2 separate regions of the Homo sapiens genome follow, and region 2 is reported to be linked to region 1. Evidence: microRNA targets listed by miRTarBase, many of them from high-throughput screens and not tested one by one. Region 1 holds a microRNA gene; the other region holds the end of a gene's coding sequence.
Evidence for each region. The annotated mature microRNA hsa-miR-513a-5p reads UUCACAGGGAGGUGUCAU and lies in region 1 at 2,889-2,906, shown strand. An mRNA with a match to its seed (bases 2 to 7 or 8) in the 3' UTR can be bound and repressed. Matches are read on the target gene's strand: a 7mer-m8 pairs with bases 2 to 8, a 7mer-A1 pairs with bases 2 to 7 and ends in A, and an 8mer does both.

Region 2: the mRNA of PPIF is a reported target of hsa-miR-513a-5p. Seed matches in the 3' UTR shown: 7mer-m8 at 7,295-7,301 and 7mer-A1 at 6,974-6,980.

What each region holds. Positions count from the first base shown.
Region 1 is chrX:147,219,498-147,228,805 of GRCh38, reverse strand. MIR513A2 (microRNA 513a-2) reads left to right here and starts at 2,854; the gene lies at 2,854-2,980. The region is part of intron 2 of LOC105373347 (periphilin-1); the gene reads right to left.
Region 2 is chr10:79,352,092-79,361,399 of GRCh38, reverse strand. PPIF (peptidylprolyl isomerase F) reads right to left here. Exons shown (of 6, transcript NM_005729.4): 5 at 9,008-9,083; 6 at 6,066-7,693. The coding sequence ends at 7,558. Among named protein-coding and RNA genes, the nearest start is that of PPIF, 9.3 kb to the right of the region's middle. RefSeq lists cis regulatory regions at 4,851-5,351, 6,811-7,311, 6,817-7,317, 6,820-7,320, 6,879-7,379 and 3 more and an enhancer at 9,180-9,308.

The sequences.
Region 1 (9,308 bases):
CATCTGGTGTTAGCTGGTATTTACAACTACTTTTCTTCACTACCCATTTTGTATTCCCTTTGCCTTCAGCAAGCACCTCAGCCATTATATTTTACCTGGTAGAGTGACCCAAACTTTCATTTCTGAAGGGTCTGGGCCATTAGTAGTCCTGCCAGGATTGGGTTGTTGTAGTTTTCTACTGACCTTAATCACAAGGCATAGTAATACTAAGAGACATCTTATGTATTTCAGAAATATTCTTCCTTACCTCCATTGTGGAGTAGTACTCCAATTTTCCCTTGGTAGTCAGAATCACCTGCTCCAGGCCACACAGTAACTCCCTTCTCTGACCTCTTAAAAAATTAGGAAATATTGTATTGACTTTTCTCTTTCCGTGTTTTCAAGATATCTCTTCTTAAACTATGGCTGTTACGAGAGAAAGAGAAAGAGAAAGAGAAAGACAATCAAGCAGAGCCAGACTGAAAGAGACAGACAGACACGACTGGAGCAGTGAGTCTTTTACACTTCTGTGCTGAAAAATGTGAGAGAGCTTGATGCCTCCTTTCAGGTAAACCCTATCAAATTATAGTCAAGTGTTGGCAAATATGGGTTGTGTAATTTGAGTTTGTTTCCCATCTCCAAACAACCACATGCCCCTCCCCAACTCAAGAACTTGATGGGAAATGTAGGTTACAATGAAATAGAAGAAAACTACTCTACTTTCTTTCCTAATAGTATTACCATTCAACTACATGTGGCTACCCTTCATCGTATCTATTTCCATCCTTCTTGCACTCATAGGATTTCCTTGGGCTTTGAGGCTCAGATACCCTGATATATTTGTTGGTGATTGTGAGTTTTTAGCATGTGTTCTAGCACATTTGTTTGTGTTTATATGGTGATGGGGGGAGTAATACATGTATCTGTGTGCACTTTGGTGTATGTGCCCATACATTTGTGTGTGCACGGGGCATGTAGCATGAGGATTTTGTTATGTTGTTTTTGTTTGAGGTTGGATCTCTGTTTTGTTTTTGTTTTGCTTTTGCTATTCTTATCAGTTTATTTCATGTGTATGGTTTTGCTTTGTTTGTTTGACTTTGGCTCCTTTGGGATTATATGTGTTTGTTTGAATTTGTTTTCAGATTTGCCATGCTCTTGGTCATTGGTGTTTTGATTGGTATTTCTTTACGTACATTGCTTGCAATTTTGTATTTTCTTTTTGTTGTTATTTGGATTTCACTGTGTGATTTCGGTTATATTTTAATTTGCATATTAATTTGCACATATGTTGTTGGAACTTTGCATTGTGTATTGCTAGGGTTCTTTCGATGGCTTATCAATTCTGTTTATGGTTAGTTTTTTTGTATTCATATTTTGTTGTATTCTCATTCTTTTTAATATTGTTTACTTGGGCGTATATGTGTCTGTGTATGTGGTTTCATGGAGCAGTGGGTCTTAGAATCTCCTGCTATGATGTGCCAGGTTGCTGGAAAGACTCCTTTGAAGCTACTGAGGGGTGGGTGATGCAGAGGAAGAGAAGTAGTACCTGTACTGGTGTTTGAAGGAGGGAGTATTGTGTCTGTGTATTTTTTTCCCCTTGAGAACTTTTTGGGGAGATAGCTCAAGGGCCCAAATACTTAAGAGAAAAGCTAAATTGATTGATTGATTGATTGATATATATAAATATTTCTGTAGAATCTAACTTTGGTTGCTTTTCATGGAATTCAAAAAATGCAGTAAAATGCTTGAGATATTTAGAATCATTCTGTTCAGTGAACTATGGCTCCTTGACCGTGACTCAGCACTAACACTGAGCTATGTGCTTCTCTGTCTGTCTTTCAGGGGTTATGTTTAGTAGATGAATGAGAATGGTACATAGAAACACTCGGTCTTGACGATCATGTGGTCTGACTTCTACATGCTATCAAGGGCCAGAGCTAGAAGAATCCAGGTCTTTTAATTTGCCTCAGCTCATGATTATTTGTGTACATCACACACACACACACACACACACACACACACACACACACACACACATATATATATATATAGTTTTTTTTTGTTTTTTTTTTTTGAGAAAGAGTCTAACTAACTCTGTTGCCCAGGCTGGGGTGCAGTGGCATGATCTCGGCTCACTGCAACCTCCACCTCCCGGGTTCAAGTGATTCAGTGGCATGATCTCGGCTCACTGCAACCTCCACCTCCCGGGTTCAAGTGATTCTCCTGCCTCAGCAGCTGCGGTTACAGTTGCCCACCACCACACCCGGCTAATTTTTTGTATTTGTAGTAGAGATGGAATTTCACCACGTTGTCCAGGCTGGTCTCAAAATCCTGACCTCTGATGATCCACCAGCCTCAGCCTACCAGAGTGATGAGATTATATGTGTGACCCACTGCACCTGGCCTGATATTGAGGATTTTTAATGAGACAAGCAAATTAACGCGAAAACTAATGGGATAATCCAGACAAGGATTACACATCTCTGGGGAAGAGATGAAGTGAAATGTTATATTCTGGCTAAGCCTAAAATTTGTGTGTTAATTAGCCATTCGCGGTGGTATGTGCCTTTAATCCCAGCTACTTGGGAGGCTGAGGCAGGAGAAGTGCTTAGACACAGAAGGGGGAGGTTGCAGTGAGCCGAGATCACACCAATGCATGCCAGTCTGGGCGACAGAGCCAGACTTCATCTGAAAACAAAAACAAAAACAAAACAAAAATCTGCATGTTAAAATCTCACTTGGGGCAGGATGAAAAGGGGAGCGCCGGGGGCTACAAGTTGCATTGTCCCTTGGCATAAATCTTGGTGGCCATGCCAAGGCATACACCTATAGGGACTTGAAAAAAAACGGCATGAATAGGGAGCATTTGTTCTTGGATGCCACATTCAGCCATTCAGTGTGCAGTGCCTTTCACAGGGAGGTGTCATTTATGTGAACTAAAATATAAATTTCACCTTTCTGAGAAGGGTAATGTACAGCATGCACTGCATATGTGGTGTCCCTGAGGATGGGGGTGTAGCTGCGAGCATGGTGATGCCTGTTTTGCATCCTGTGCACCCACTCTTCAGTGCTGGGCTACTTCAGGGAACTTTTTGTGCCTTCTAAATGACTATACATAGGAACTGTGGACTCCTGAGAAAACGCATGCACTTCGGTTCCTTAAGAATTTATCTATTTTTGCCAAATGAGGCTTGGCTCAAATAAGAAATACATTGGATAGAGGCCACAGCCATTCTTCGTCAGCTGGAAGGCTATATTCCAGATTCCTAAACTTTTCTCACTTATCAAGAAGTCATCATTTGCAAGGATTCTCCTTTAGCGCTCCCAAAAGACTCTCCTGCCTCTCAGGTCCCTTCATTGCTGATCCACAGTGTCCATTTTCTGTCAAAGACTAAAACATTTTCTCATAGACTTTTAAAATACCTTTCAAAGCCTTCAGTCACCAATTTATGGAGGGTTAAGCGTAGTCCACCCAAGAATATTTCACCCTTTTCCATTATCTTTTTTCCCTGTTTTTTATGTTTGAACAATGGAAGCGTATGATAGAGTTGTTACTCAAGAGATATCTCCTAGTCTTCTCTCCCCATTTTCTGTCTTTTTTTTTTTTGAGATGGAGTCTTTCTTACTCTTTCACACAGGCTGGAGTGCAGTGGCGCCATCTCAGCTCACTGCAACCTCTGTCTCCCGGGTTCAAGCGATTCTTCTGCCTCAGCCTCCCAAGTAGCTGGGATTACAGGCGTGCGCCAACACACCTGGCTAATTTTTGTATTTTTAGTAGAGACCAGGTTTCACCACGTTGGTCAGACTGGTGTCGAACTGCTGACCTCGTGATCCACCCACCTCACCCTCCCAAATTGCTGGGATTACAGGCGTGAACCACCATGCCCGGCCCCATTTTCTTGTGTTGACACTTCTTAACTCAACCTAATGGAGAGAGAAAGAGGCAAATACGCACGTGCACAAGAGTAAGACAAGTGCCAGATGGTGTGAGGCCATCTGCAGCATGAAACTAGTATGCATTTTTTAGAAGTAGGTTATATATAAATAAGCTACTTATATTGGGGAAATGTGTTTAAAAATGTTATAAATAGTAAGTGATTGATTAATACAATTTTGATTCCAACGGAAATAGAGGTTACAGCATATACACCGAAAGAGAGAAACTATAAAAAAACAATTACTATATGGTTACAGGCAGGATTTTAGTTTATGTTTGTTTTTTTAGGTTCAGAATGGATGAATATGTATAAGACCATTAATGTCTGGAAGTAAAAAAAATCAGTTGAAGTATCTTTTTCAATATTAAAACAATTGTACTAATAGAATATATAGAACTTTTTTCATTGGAGGCGGGGGGACATTCTGAATAATAAAAAAAAATTCTGTCCGTTGGAAATACTGTATGTGTGTAGAAATTTCCAAAGTGATAACTCTTTTTAGCATATAATTTCTAAAACTGTATTAGAGAGAATTCATGTGTACTTAAATAAGTGATATCGTAAAATGAAACAAAGACAGAGAATTTAGTTATATCTCTTTTAGGATTTCTCAAAAAGAGTACTATCTCTTTTAGGATTTCTCAAAAAGAGTACTATATTCACTGGTATTTATGGTTTTTCTTTCAGTGAAATACTTTTTTGTATAAGAATGCTTGTGATTTTTGTACATTGATTTTGTATCCTGAGACTTTGCCGAAGTTGCTTATCAGCTTAAGGAGATTTTGGGCTGAGACAATGGGGTTTTCTAGATATACAGTCATGTCGTCTGCAAACAGGGACAATTTGACTTCCTCTTTTCCTAATTGAATACCCTTTATTTCCTTCTCCTGCCTGGTTGCCCTGGCCAGAACTTCCAACACTATCTTGAATAGGAGTGGTGAGAGAGGGCATCCCTGTCTTGTGCCAGTTTTCAAAGGGAATGCTTCCACTTTTTGCCCATTCAGTATGATATTGGCTGTGGGTTTGTCATAGATAGCTCTTATTATTTTGAAATACGTCCCATCAATACCTAATTTATTGAGAGTTTTTAGCATGAAGGGTTGTTGAATTTTGTCAAAGGCTTTTTCTGCATCTATTGAGATAATCATGTGGTTTTTGTCTTTGGCTCCGTTTATATGCTGGATTACATTTATTGATTTGCGTATATTGAACCAGCCTTGCATCCCAGGGATGAAGCCCACTCGATCATGGTGGATAAGCTTTTTGATGTTCTGCTGGATTCGTTTTGCCAGTATTTTATTGAGGATTTTTGCATCAATGATCATCAAGGATATTGGTCTAAAATTCTCTTTTTTGGTTGTGTCTCTGCCCGGCTTTGGTATCAGAATGATGCTGGCCTCATACAATGAGTTAGGGAGGATTCCCTCTTTTTCTATTGATTGGAATAGTTTCAGAAGGAATGGTACCAGTTCCTCCTTGTACCTCTGGTAGAATTCGGTTGTGAATCCATCTGGTCCTGGACTCTTTTTGGTTGGTAAACTATTGATTATTGCCACAATTTCAGCTCCTGTTAGTTATTGGTCTATTCAGAGATTCAACTTCTTCCTGGTGGTCTATTCAGAGATTCAACTTCTTCCTGGTTTAGTCTCGGGAGAGTGTATGTGTCGAGGAATGTGTCCATTTCTTCTAGATTTTCTAGTTTAGTTTATTTGCGTAGAGGCGTTTGTAGTGTTCTCTGATGGTAGTTTGTATTTCTGTGGGATGGGTGGTGATATCCCCTTTATCATTTTTTTATTGTGTCTATTTGATTCTTGTCTCTTTTTTTCTTTATTAGTCTTGCTAGTGGTCTATCAATTTTGCTGATCCTTTCAAAAAACCAGCTCCTGGATTCATTGATTTTTTGAAGGGTTTTTTGTGTCTCTATTTCCTTCAGTTCTGCTCTGATTTTAGTTATTTCTTGCCTTCTGCTAGCTTTTGAATGTGTTTGCTCTTGCTTTTCTAGTTCTTTTAATTGTGTTGTTAGGGTGTCAATTTTGGATCTTTCCTGCTTTCTCTTGTGGGCATTTAGTGCTATAAATTTCCCTCTACACACTGCTTTGAATGTGTCCCAGAGATTCTGGTATGTTGTGTCTTTGTTCTCGTTGGTTTCAAAGAACATCTTTATTTCTGCCTTCATTTCGTTATGTACCCAGTAGTCATCCAGGAGCAGGTTGTTCAGTTTCCATGTAGTTGAGCGGCTTTGAGTGAGATTCTTAATCCTGAGTTCTAGTTTGATTGCACTGTGGTCCGAGAGATAGTTTGTCATTCTTATACACCAACAACAGACAAACAGAGAGAGAGCCAAATCATGAGTGAACTCCCATTCACAATTGCTTCAAAGAGAATAAAATACCTAGGAATCCAACTTACAAGGGATGTGAAGGACCTCTTCAAGGAGAACTACAAACCACTGCTCAAGGAAATAAAAGAGGATACAAACAAATGGAAGAACATTCCATGCTCATGGGTAGGAAGAATCAATATCGTGAAAATGGCCATACTGCCCAAGGTAATTTACAGATTCAATGCCATCCCCATAAAGCTACCAATGACTTTCTTCACAGAACTGGAAAAAACTACTTTAAAGTTCATATGGAACCAAAAAAGAGCCCGCATCGCCAAGTCAATCCTAAGCCAAAAGAACAAAGCTGGAGGCTTCACACTACCTGACTTCAAACTATACTACAAGGCTACAGTAACCAAAACAGCATGGTACTGGTACCAAAACAGAGATCTAGATCAATGGAACAGAACAGAGCCCTCAGAAATAATGCCGCATATGCCGCATATCTACAACTATCTGATCTTTGACAAACCTGAGAAAAACAAGCAATGGGGAAAGGATTCCCTGTTTAATAAATGGTGCTGGGAAAACTGGCTAGCCATATGTAGAAAGCTGAAACTGGATCCCTTCCTTACACCTTATACAAAAATCAATTCAAGATGGATTAAAGATTTAAACGTTAGACCTAAAACCATAAAAACCCTAGAAGAAAACCTAGGCAATACCATTCAGGACATAGGCATGGGCAAGGACTTCATGTCTAAAACACCAAAAGCAATGGCAACAAAAGCCAAAATTGACAAATGGGATCTAATTAAACTAAAGAGCTTCTGCACAGCAAAAGAAACTACCATCAGAGTGAACAGGCAACCTACTCATCTGACAAAGGGCTAATATCCAGAATCTACAATGAACTCAAACAAATTTACAAGAAAAAAACAAACAACCCCATCAAAAAGTGGGCAAAGGACATGAACAGACACTTCTCAAAAGAAGACATTTATGCAGCCAAAAACACGTGAAAAAATGCTCACCATCACTGGCCATCAGAGAAATGCAAATGAAAACCACAATGAGATACCATCTCACACCAGTTAGAATGGCAATCATTAAAAAGTCAGGAAACAACAGGTGCTGGAGAGGATGTGGAGAAATAGGAACACTTTTACACTGTTGGTGGGACTGTAAACTAGTTCAACCATTGTGGAAGTCAGTGTGGCGATTCCTCAGGGATCTAGAACTAGAAATACCATTTGACCCAGCCATCCCATTACTGGGTATATACCCAAAGGACTATAAATCATGCTGCTATAAAGACACATGCACACGTATGTTTATTGCGGCATTATTCACAATAGCAAAGACTTGGAACCAACCCAAATGTCCAACAATGATAGACTGGATTAAGAGAATGTGGCACATATACACCATGGAATACTATGCAGCCATAAAAAAGGATGAGTTCATGTCCTTTGTAGGGACATGGATGAAATTTGGAAATCATCATTCTCCGTAAACTATCGCAAGAACAAAAAACCAAACACCGCATATTCTCACTCATAGGTGGGAATTGAACAATGAGATCACATGGACACAGGAAGGGGAATATCACACTCTGGGGACTGTGGTGGGGTGGGGGGAGGGATAGCAATGGGAGATATACCTAATGCTAGATGATGAGTTAGTGGGTGCAGCGCACCAGCATGGCACATGTATACATATGTAACTAACCTGCACAATGTGCACATGTACCCTAAAACTTAAAAAGTATAATAAAAAAATAATAACAAAAAAAAGAAATACTTTTTTGTATCATTCATCCGTGTTTCTACCAACTTTGTATATATTTAAGGTGTACAACATGATGTTTGGATATATGTATATATTATACAATGATTAAATCAAGCTAATTAAAACACAACATAAAATATTTAGGTGAAAGTCTAAATACAAATTACAAGATCTCTGTGGTATGCAGAATAACAAACAAACAGTCCCCCTCCAAAAGATGTTTACAGAGTAACCCCTGAACTCAAAAACATCACATTTTGTGGTAGAAAGAAATTTGTAGATATGATTAAATATTTTGAGATTGGGATTATCCTAGATTATCTAGGTGAGCCCAACATAATCACAGGGTTCCTTATAAGTAGAAGGAAGGTGGTTAGAATAAGAGAAACATTGGAAAAGGTATAAAGGCCATGAGCCAAAGAATGGAGGAAGCAAGTAGAATCTTCTAAAGACAATCAAGTAGATTCTCCTCTAGAGCCAACAGAAGGAACAAAGCCCTGCCAATGCCTTCATTTTAGCCGAGGTAAAGCTAATTTATATTATTTCTGACCTTTAGACTCTAACATAATAAATTTGTGTTGTTGTAAACAACTAAATTTGTGGCAATTTCTTACAGTATCAGTAGAAAACCAAAAACATCTGTAAATATACTAAGAGAATCAAATAATTACTAAGTAAGTGGAGAGGAGTATCATATTTATCGATTGAAGGATTCAAATCTATAAATTTACAGAGTTCTATTGCTCTATAGAGTTAATGAAATTCCAGCCAATGTCCTAGAAGGACATTTGTAGACATTAGCATGATGATTCTAAAACTGATATAAAAGCAAATAAACTAGAATATCCAAAACAAACAATCTGAAATATCCAAAACAAACAATCTGAAAGAGAATCACAAAGCTGGAGAATTTACACTTGTAATTTTCAGCTTTACTGTCTAACTAGATTAGCCAATATAGTGTGGTACTGAAGGATGGACAAATTGAATGGAAAGACCAGAAATATCTATGTATGTCACCAATTCATTTTGACTAAGCTGTAAAGTCAATCTAATGAAGAAATGAAATAATAATATTAATATTTACACAACGAGATGCTGGGAAATGTGATATATATATGAAGAATATGAATCTTGATCCATATTTCAAACCATATACAGAAATTAAATTAACACAATCTTAGGCCAAAAGGTCAAACTATCATATTTCATTAAAATAAATGAGAGAAAATATTTTTGGCCATTAAATTATTATCTATGATATCAAAATATAAAAA
Region 2 (9,308 bases), not on the chromosome of region 1:
GCATTTTGTGTGTCTTCTAATTTTTTGTTGAAAATCAATAGAATTCCAACAATAGAAGAGACAGTAGTGAACAGTATGTGTCATTATTAATTTTATGTGTCAACTTGGCTAGGCCAGGGTACTCAGATATTTGGTCACACACCAGTCTAGATGTTGCTGTGAAGGTATTTTTGAGATGAGATTAAAATTTAAATCAGTGACTTTGAGTAAAGCATATTGCCCTCCATAATGTGGTGGGCCTCATCCAATCAGTTGAAGACTTTAAGAGAAAAAGACTAAGGTCCACCAAAGAAGGTGGCATTTTGCTTCTTGAACCCAAGCTCCAAAATCAACTCTTCCCTGAGTCACCAGCCTGCTGGCCTGTCCTGCAGAATTTGGAATTGCCCAGGTCCCACAACTGCATGAGCCAATTAATTAAAATCTCTCAATCTCTCTCTCTCCCTCTGCCTATACATATATACACATCCAATTGGTTCTAGTTCTCTGAAGAACCCTGACTAATACAGTATGTACACTGGAAACAGGCATGCCACTGATTCTTTCAGGCCATTATTGTGGGAAATTGAGTTAGTCGCCTCAGGGGTTGAGCTGGATTTGGGGTTTGTGTTGCTATTCTTGCTTTCAGAGCTCCATAGGCTTCAAATTCCTTAAGTGGTGGATTACTGTTGACTTGTGCTTACAGTGGAGCTGGGGTGCCAAAGGATTGTTTAGACTCCACACTCAGCTTTCTGCAATACGGAGGGTGTCTCTCTCCATGCCCCGCCCTCCCCCACTGGTAGACCAGGCTCATAGTAAGGCAGGAGGCTTTTCTGCTGTCCTCATCCCGCCTTAGTCTTAGGCATGTCTTGGCTGTTTCTTGCTCCCTCTTCCACCAGAGGTAGTCAATTTCTGGTTGGTATCGCTAAAGGATCCTGGGCCCTGGATGGCTTCTTACCCCTCCCACAGGGATAAAAGGATGTGTGTTCTACTTCCCCCAGCCACAGTGCACTTTTACATGTTCCTGGGGGTGGATGGTGTAATGCCCAACCTCCCAGTGGATTCTCAAATTTACTTCATTGGAGAGAAGAACCTGAGGAAGTGGACGAGGCTCCGTGCCTTTCTCCAGCAGCTGAAGGTCCCCTCCTGCAGACCTGAACCACCAAGTTGGGCTACCTCTTAGGTCTTCTGTGCATCTGGTGGGAGCCTGGAGAAAGATGTTGAACTCCCTTTGCATCTGGGGTCCCCAGCTACTCCAGATGGACACATTAGCCCCCTCTTGGCCTTTAGCAATTCATTAAAAGGCTTACCTAATTTTATTTTATTTTACACAGTTGTTTCATGGTCATATCTTCCTACAGTGCTCTGCCACAGGTGAAACTGTGTGTCCTGTCTCTCCTTGCAGGGCCTTGTTCCTCTTTTTTTTTTTTTTTTTTTTGAGATGGAGTCTCACTCTGTTGCCCAGGCTAGAGTGCAGTGGTGCAATCTCGGCTCATTGCAACCTCCGCCTCCCGGTTCAAGTGATTCTCCTGCCTCAGTCTCCAGAGTAGCTGAGATTACAGGCATGCACCACCATGCTCGGCTATTTTTTTTTTATTTTTAGTAGAGACAGGGTTTCACCACGTTGGCCAGGCTGGTCTCCAACTCCTGACCTCAGGTGATCCGCCCACCTTGGCCTCCCAAAGTGCTGGGATTACAGGCGTGAGCCACGGCGACTGGCCGCTTTGTTCCTCTTTGAAACTCAGGTTATTTGGTTGCCTTTCTGGTGAGCTCAAGAAAAGTTACGATTTTGTAGTTTATTCAACTTCTTCTCATTGTTAGGAAAGGAGTGGTGGTCTTTGCAGCTAAGCAAATGCAGAAACCTATACCAACTATTACTGTAATAGGATTGTAGGCAATGCTAATTCTCTATATTATATAATTATGTAACATTTGAATTTTTACATGTGCATTTTGGTTTTATAAATAGAAAAAAGACAATATGTGTAAGAGAAACAGAATCAGTAGAATATATATGTGTGTGTGTGTGTGTGTGTGTATATATTTATACCATATACATAAGATATATATGATACAAAAACATAAGGAATTGGCTCATGTGATCATGGGGGCTGAGAAGACCCACCACCTGTAGTTGGCGGGCTGGAGACCCAGGAGAGCCAATGGTGTAGGTCCAGTCCGAGTCTGAAGGCCTGAGAACCAGAAGAGCCAATGTAGGTTCCAGTCTGAAGGCTGGCAGGCTCAAGACCCTGAGACAGCCAACATTTCAGTTTGAGTCCAAAGGCAGAAAATACCAATGTTCCAGCTGAGGACCGTCAGGCAGGAGGCGTTCCCTCTTAGCCTTTTGTTCTATTCAGGTCTTCAGTTGACTGGACGAAGTCCACCCACACGAGGGAGAACCACCTGCTTTACTCGGTCTAGCTATGCAAATATTAATCTTAGACAGAAACACCCTCACAGACACACCCAGAATAGTGTCTGACCCAATGTGTAAGCACTCTGTGACCCAGTTAGGTTGACACATAAGGCTGGGTGTGGTGCCTGACACCTATAATCTCAACATTTTAGGAATTTGAAGTGGGAGGACCACTTGGGGCCAGGAGAGACTGGCCTGGGAAATACAGCAAGACCCGCATCTTTTAAAAAAATAAAAAATAAATAGCCAAGCATGGTGGCACGTGCCTGTAGTCCCAGCTACTCAGGGTGCTGAGGTGGAAGGATTGCTTGAGCCTAGGAGTTTGAGGTTACAGCAAGCTATGATTGTGCCACTGCACTCCGGCATGGGTGACAGAGTGAGACCCCATCTCAAAAAAAAAAAATTGACCCATAAAATTAACGATCACAATATGATAGAATAGCAATAATGTTATCAGCATAATTCTGGACAGCCTCTACAGGCTGGGTGATCTGGGAGGCAGAATGGACCCAAGACTTTCTCTACCTGCCATATTCTGAAGAATCTTGGACATAGAGCTGACTTCTGGCCTCCGCAATCCACTCACTGAGAAATGCACTCCATCCAAGACCCACCCAAGGCAGCCCCTCCTCCTAGATGACAAAACAAGAGCTGGGGCCTCCACCCCTCTAGGAGCTTCTTCCTTCACAGGCTCCTGCATAGGCAAAGACAGGGGGAGCCACTTTTTCTTTTCTCTTTTTGAGACAGCGTGTTGCTCTGTCACCCAGACTGCAGTCCCGTGGCATGATCATGGCTCACTGCAGCCTCCGGCTCCTGGGCTCAAGTGATCCTCTTACCTCAGCCTCCCGAGTAGCTGGGACCACAGGCACATGTCACCAAGCCCAGCTAAGTTTTAATTTTTTTTTTTTTTTTTTTTTTTTTTTTTTTTTTTGTAGAGATGCGATCTCACTATGTTGACCAGGCTGGTCTGAAACCCCTGGGCTCAAGCAATCCGTTCACCTCTGCTTCCCAAAGTGCTGGGATTACAGGCATGAGCCACCATGCCTGGCTGGCCACTTTGACCAGCGCTATCGAGGAGCTCCCCTGCCCACTGGCCTCCACAGAGCTTGAGTGGAATAGGATGTGCCCCACCCAGTCATCCGAGACTTGTCGGTCAGACTCCTTAAGTGAGGCTTCTTTTAAAAGTGGAGGGTGTCACACTAGAGTCCCAGAAAGTCCAGTAAAAAATGTTTCCAGAAGTAAATGATGACTCTAGTGTTGAGCCATGACCTTCCCTTTCACTCTTACCCACTGTGGCTACACTCAAATTCTTAAGCTTTATCAGATTTGTCTCCGGAATTGCTTCCTGCCGGAGAGTTCATGGTCTCGTTGACTTCGAGAATGGAGCCACGGCCCTTCACGGTGAGTGTTACAGCTCTTAAAGATGGCACAAGTGAGCGGTAGCAAGGTTTATTGTGAAGAGGGAAAGGACAAAGTTTCCACAACACGGAAAGAGACCCGAGCCAGTTGCGGCTGCTGGTTGGGATAGCCAACTTTTATTCCCTTATTTGTCCCCGCCCATGTTCCATTTCTGTCCTATCAGAGTGCCTTTTTTCAGTCCTCCCCACGAATGGCTACTTTCAGAATCCTGCTGATTGGTCCGTTTTACAGAGTGCTGATTGGTGCATTTTACAGAGCGCTGATTGGTGCATTTTACAATCCTCTTGTAAGACAGGAAAGTTCCCCAAGGGATGTCCAGCTGGCTTCACCTCTCAGAATTATTATTTTAAAATTCAGATTCCTAGATGCAAATATTCAAAAGGCGTCTCAGGTATGGCCAGAAATCTGCATGATTTACTGGCACTCTGTGATTCCTAGAAGCATTGCTTTAGGCCTTCCCAGACCTACGAAACCTTTAAGAAATTCCTTTTCATGGAGCAAGATTCTTTAGAACCCAGAAGCATATTAGAGCCTCACACATTCTCACACATGCCACACTGGAGAAGCCAGACATGAAAAAGTGAACCCTGCTCAATACCATTTCTACAAAGTTCTAGAACAGGCAAAATTACAGGGATAAGATCCAGTGGCTGCCTGGGAAGGGGCACAGAGAGAACTTTCTGGAAAGACGGAAACATTCTGTATCTTAATTTGGTGATAGATATTACTAGTATATGCTTTTGTCAAAAGTCATTGATGTGTACACTTGAAGTGACTTTTCTTGTACGTAAATATACCTCAATGAAATCATTTTGAAAAGCTATCACATCACAGAAAATAAAATTGATGTTTCAGATTTTTTTTAAAAATCGTGTGTACATGGCACCACTTATGATTACATCTATGAGTGCATGTGTAAGACTCACTGCCTCATTTATGCATGAGGTATTGAGTGCTCACTGGCCAGAAACAAGCCAGTATTTTATTTGTATATTACTTATGTTCTTGCTTTATGCAAGAAATATGACTAGGCTCAGGCCTTTGTGCAGGGAGCTCAGGGAATGAGCAGCACAGGGAACGGCCCTGCTTTCAGGGAACTCGGTTTTTAGGAGATTCCTGCATGTTTGGTGCACCCTCACCTCACCTTAGACTTCTCTGGGTGGAGATACACACACATAGACACACACACATACACGCGTGCACACACACACACTCTCCTCAGCAAGAAGGAAACACAATGACTAAACATAAGCCCCAAAAGAGGAAACTCCAGAGGGAGTGAAGCTGTGGGCTTTGACCTCAGAGATCAGTTGTGCTCTGAATGTGTGTGGCCTGAGAACCTTTGGCAATATGTCCCCCAAGGCACCTGTGCATTCTCGAAGGCCCCCAACAGAAATCCCTGCAGACTGCCAAAAACCCTGGATTCTAGCCCGTTTTGCCAATTGATTCACAGGGTCACATGGGACAATCATAATCCCTCTTGGGGTCTCAGTTTACCCATCTGTAAAGTGTTGGACTGGATGAGAAATTACTAATTATGATTTGGCTCAAGATCCTATTCTTCAAATGAAATCCCTTACAGAACCCCAATATAAATGGAGGGCATCTATGACTGCAAATGGGGTTCAGGGGCCCATGCTCCTTGTGTCCTCCTTGTCTGCTTTGAGGACTCTTAACGCTCTTGATAATTGTTTTAAGACTACTTGTCCTACTGAAACTGACTTCATGGGAACTCTCCATGACTCCAAATGACCCGACCCCAGTCACCATGACCTCAGAGTGACTCCATTAACCTAAGACTACACATAACCTCACTCAGGGAACCCCAGTGAGAAATAATTCTGTTAGATGCCCTCAAAAGGGCCCAAATTTCCTCTGAGAACTGCCTGCCTGACCACTCAACTGCCGGGCCACACCACAGCCCTGTCTACCTAGGGAAGCTCTTACCTCCAATCCTGCCTTCCCTGTGAATTTGGAAACACCTAGAAGTCAATTCCAAATGGAACTGGCTTATCCTAGGAAGTCCACTCCTAACCTCAGATGATGGAGGCTCCTTTGCTCTGGCATCCCTCCTCCTTCCTAAGACCCTGACAGGGGAAAGGTCATCATCCTTGTCACTCCAGAGTGCTTAGGAAGGTGCGCCAGACACTGCGTTATGCACTTCACGTGGATCACCACCCTACGAGGTGGGCCTTATTGTTAACCCGTGTTAGGATTCTTGTATTGCTATAAAAAAATACTTGAGACTGAGTAATTTATTATTAAAAAGGTTTAATTGGCTTATGGTTCTGCAGGATGTACAGGAAGCATGGTGCTGGCATCTGCTCAGCTTCCAGGGAGGCCTCAGGAAGCTTATGACCATGGCAAAAGGTGAAGGGGGATCAGGCATGTCACATGGTGAAAGCAGGAGCAAGAAGGGGGCAGGGGGAGGTGCCACACAATTTTAAATGACCGTATCTTGCAATAATTCACCATCAAGAAAACAGCACCAAGCCATGAAATACCCGTCCCCATGATCCAAACACCTCGTAGCAGGCCCCACCTCCAGCACTGGGGATTACAGTTCAACATGAGATTTGGCTGGGGACAAATATTCAAACTATATCGCCTCCTTATGCAGCTGAGGGAAACAGACTTGGGGTCACTAAGGGGAGGAGCTGGGATTCAGGGTGGAGCCAGTGCTCATGGCATAGGCTATGGGTGCTAAGGTCGTTTGTCTGAGCCTCATCTCTAAGGCAGGGAGGACAAGTTGCCAGCACGATGACATGAAACCATCCACATGAACGTCCTGAGCATGGCATCTGCCACGGCGAGCTCAGTAAAGATCAGCTCCAAGTCACAGACCCCTCTTCCAGAAACCAGGTACCAGTCTTCCATAGAAAATAGGATTTATTTTCACATTTAAGGTGAACACAAATCCATGTTCCAGAAATGTTTTATGCATAACACATCATGAGTAGATTGAATTTCTTTAACACACAGAAAAATCAAAGCCTACCAGGAAATGCTTCCCTCCGGAGCACAGGAGCTTACAGGCCACTTCTGTTAGCAACACAGGAATTCACATTGTCTAGGCACAGCTCAAGTGAGGTTTGTTCCCAGGTTCAACTGCTCCTACCCCCATGGGCCCTCCTCAAAAACGACAGCAGCAAACCAACAGGCTTCACAGTAACCAGGAGGAAAGATCTCAGCGGGGGAACCTTCACAAAAGCCCTGAGTTGTGTTTCAAAAGCCAAGCTCTGGGGTCTGTGGCCTGTGTCACCAACTCAGGTCACACCACAGCACGGGGAAGTTAGTGTTGCAGTTTCACTTCTAGTCAATCTTGTTAATTAAATTATCCCAATTAGGAAGACAATATTAAACAGGTATTAGAGTCCTTTTGCAAAACTGACTGTCCCCCTTGGTCAAGGAAAAGACTTTCACTTGGATGGCAACCCATCACCATCACCATGTCCAAGGCACAGATGAATCTGGGCTGGGCAATCACAGGCAATGCTTGACAAGGGGTGGGTGACATCATGTCCACAAAGATGCCCAGAAATGAGGTCGTGAGGAAGGGTGGGTATTAGGAAGCAATGTGGTGGGTCCTGGCCGAGGTCTAACATCCCTAGCAGCCTTCCTCAGGCACACTGTGACAGTGGAGTGGGCACACGTATCGTTTCAGGCACCTTGGCTGACAGCCCAACGCGGCCACCTGGGTGCATGGACATTTGCAGCTGCCACCATGCCAGCACCCTGGCCACAGATTAGCTCAACTGGCCACAGTCTGTGATGACAATCTTCTTGGATGTCCTCCCACTCTTAGAGCCGAAAGATTCTATTTTCTTCACGACGTCCATGCCCTCTTTGACGTGACCGAACACAACATGCTTGCCATCCAACCTGTGAGGACGGGTGACCCGGGTGAGCAACAGTGTAGCGCAATGTCATCCAATGCCATGGACCTGGTCATGGAATTAGTTACCGAAAACAGCAATTCTGAAAAGAATCCCCATGGAATAGCTAGATCTACCCCCAAAGCTCGATCAAGCCTTGTTGAGCGCCCCAAATACACCCCAGAGGATGCCTGGCTTCCAGGACACATTCTGTCACTCATGTTGTGACCTTGCCTCAGGCCATGTAGCCTGAATCCTGGTAACCCCATCTATCAAAAGTGGAGTATTCTTTGTTCTGCATGGGGAGGTAACAGGATACTGAAATGCTCTGAAGAAAGAAGAAGTCCATACAAATGGAACCACGTTAACGGTCATGAATGATGAGTCAAGAGTCAAAGGAACAAGGGTGGTGAAACTGCAGGAGTCCTGGGCAGCTCTCAACCCGAGAGAGTCCAATAATGTAAAAGGCGGCTCAGTCCAGCTCCAGCGAAGCTGGCGTGGTTCCAGCCAAGAGCAGAACTGCAGGATCCACTGGGGTCCCATGAAGGAGCAAAGAGCAGGCTGAGCCAGCAAGGACCTGCCCAGCCCTGCCGGCCACATCTCTTGGGCTTGGAGGCTGGACACTTCTAGTGTCTGCCCCACCTAGGTCTCCCTAAAATCCTCGGAAATGGGCTTTACCAAGTCAGCTCCCAGCCAGTTCATCCCCAGGTGCCCCAGGGCTAGGACATTTGGGACTCTGGCCAGAGAAATTTATCCCTTAGAGGAAAATGTACCAGGAAAGAGACATCCCTAAAATCCATGGGCATTGAAAACAGGGCCCTTACAGGCCTGTGGCTATCTGCAGGTTTATGATAATACAGAGGCTTCATTTGGAAATTTGCTGATATCCAAATGTCTGCTGCAGCATTGCCAAGGCTCAGCCCATGGTCAAGACAAGCCTGGGAAACTCCAGGTTAAAACCACACAAGTGGGCTTCTACTCAGTCCCTCCTGAGGCCTCATAATATGTTTTGCAACATTTCCCAAATGTATCTGGTAGAGAAACCCTTTCGTGTGTGCGTGTGAGCAGAACACACTCAGAAAATTCCAGGTGACAGCAACAATGGGAACCCGAACCATGACAGAGTTGCAGGAACAACCCCAATTCTCCCTTGATCCTTCCACTAACTTTCTCTTTCTCATACAAACACACAGCCTGGGAGAGGGCCACTGTCCCAGAGCAGAAGGCCTGGCTGTAAACTGCCTGCCCCTAAAAGTGCACGAATCCTCCTCCAGCTGCAAGGCTGCCCGCATTCCCAGAGGGCCTGGGGCAGGGAACTCACCAGTCTGTCTTTATGGTGCAGATGAAGAACTGGGAGCCGTTGGTGTTAGGACCAGCATTAGCCATGGACAGGACACCTGCAAAAACCAGCAGGGCTGAGCCACGCTGCCCCTGGAGGCACCTGCCTGGGAGGGCATTTGAAAGGGCAGACGGTGCAAACCACACCAGGGACATTCGAGTCTGCAGATCCTGGGACCCAGAAGAGGAGAACCAGGGCCCGATACCAGCCCCCCAGGGTATGCCTGCCTTTGCTGCCTGCTAGTTCTCAGTGGGGTGGCCTGAGAGGACAGGGCCTTGTGGAA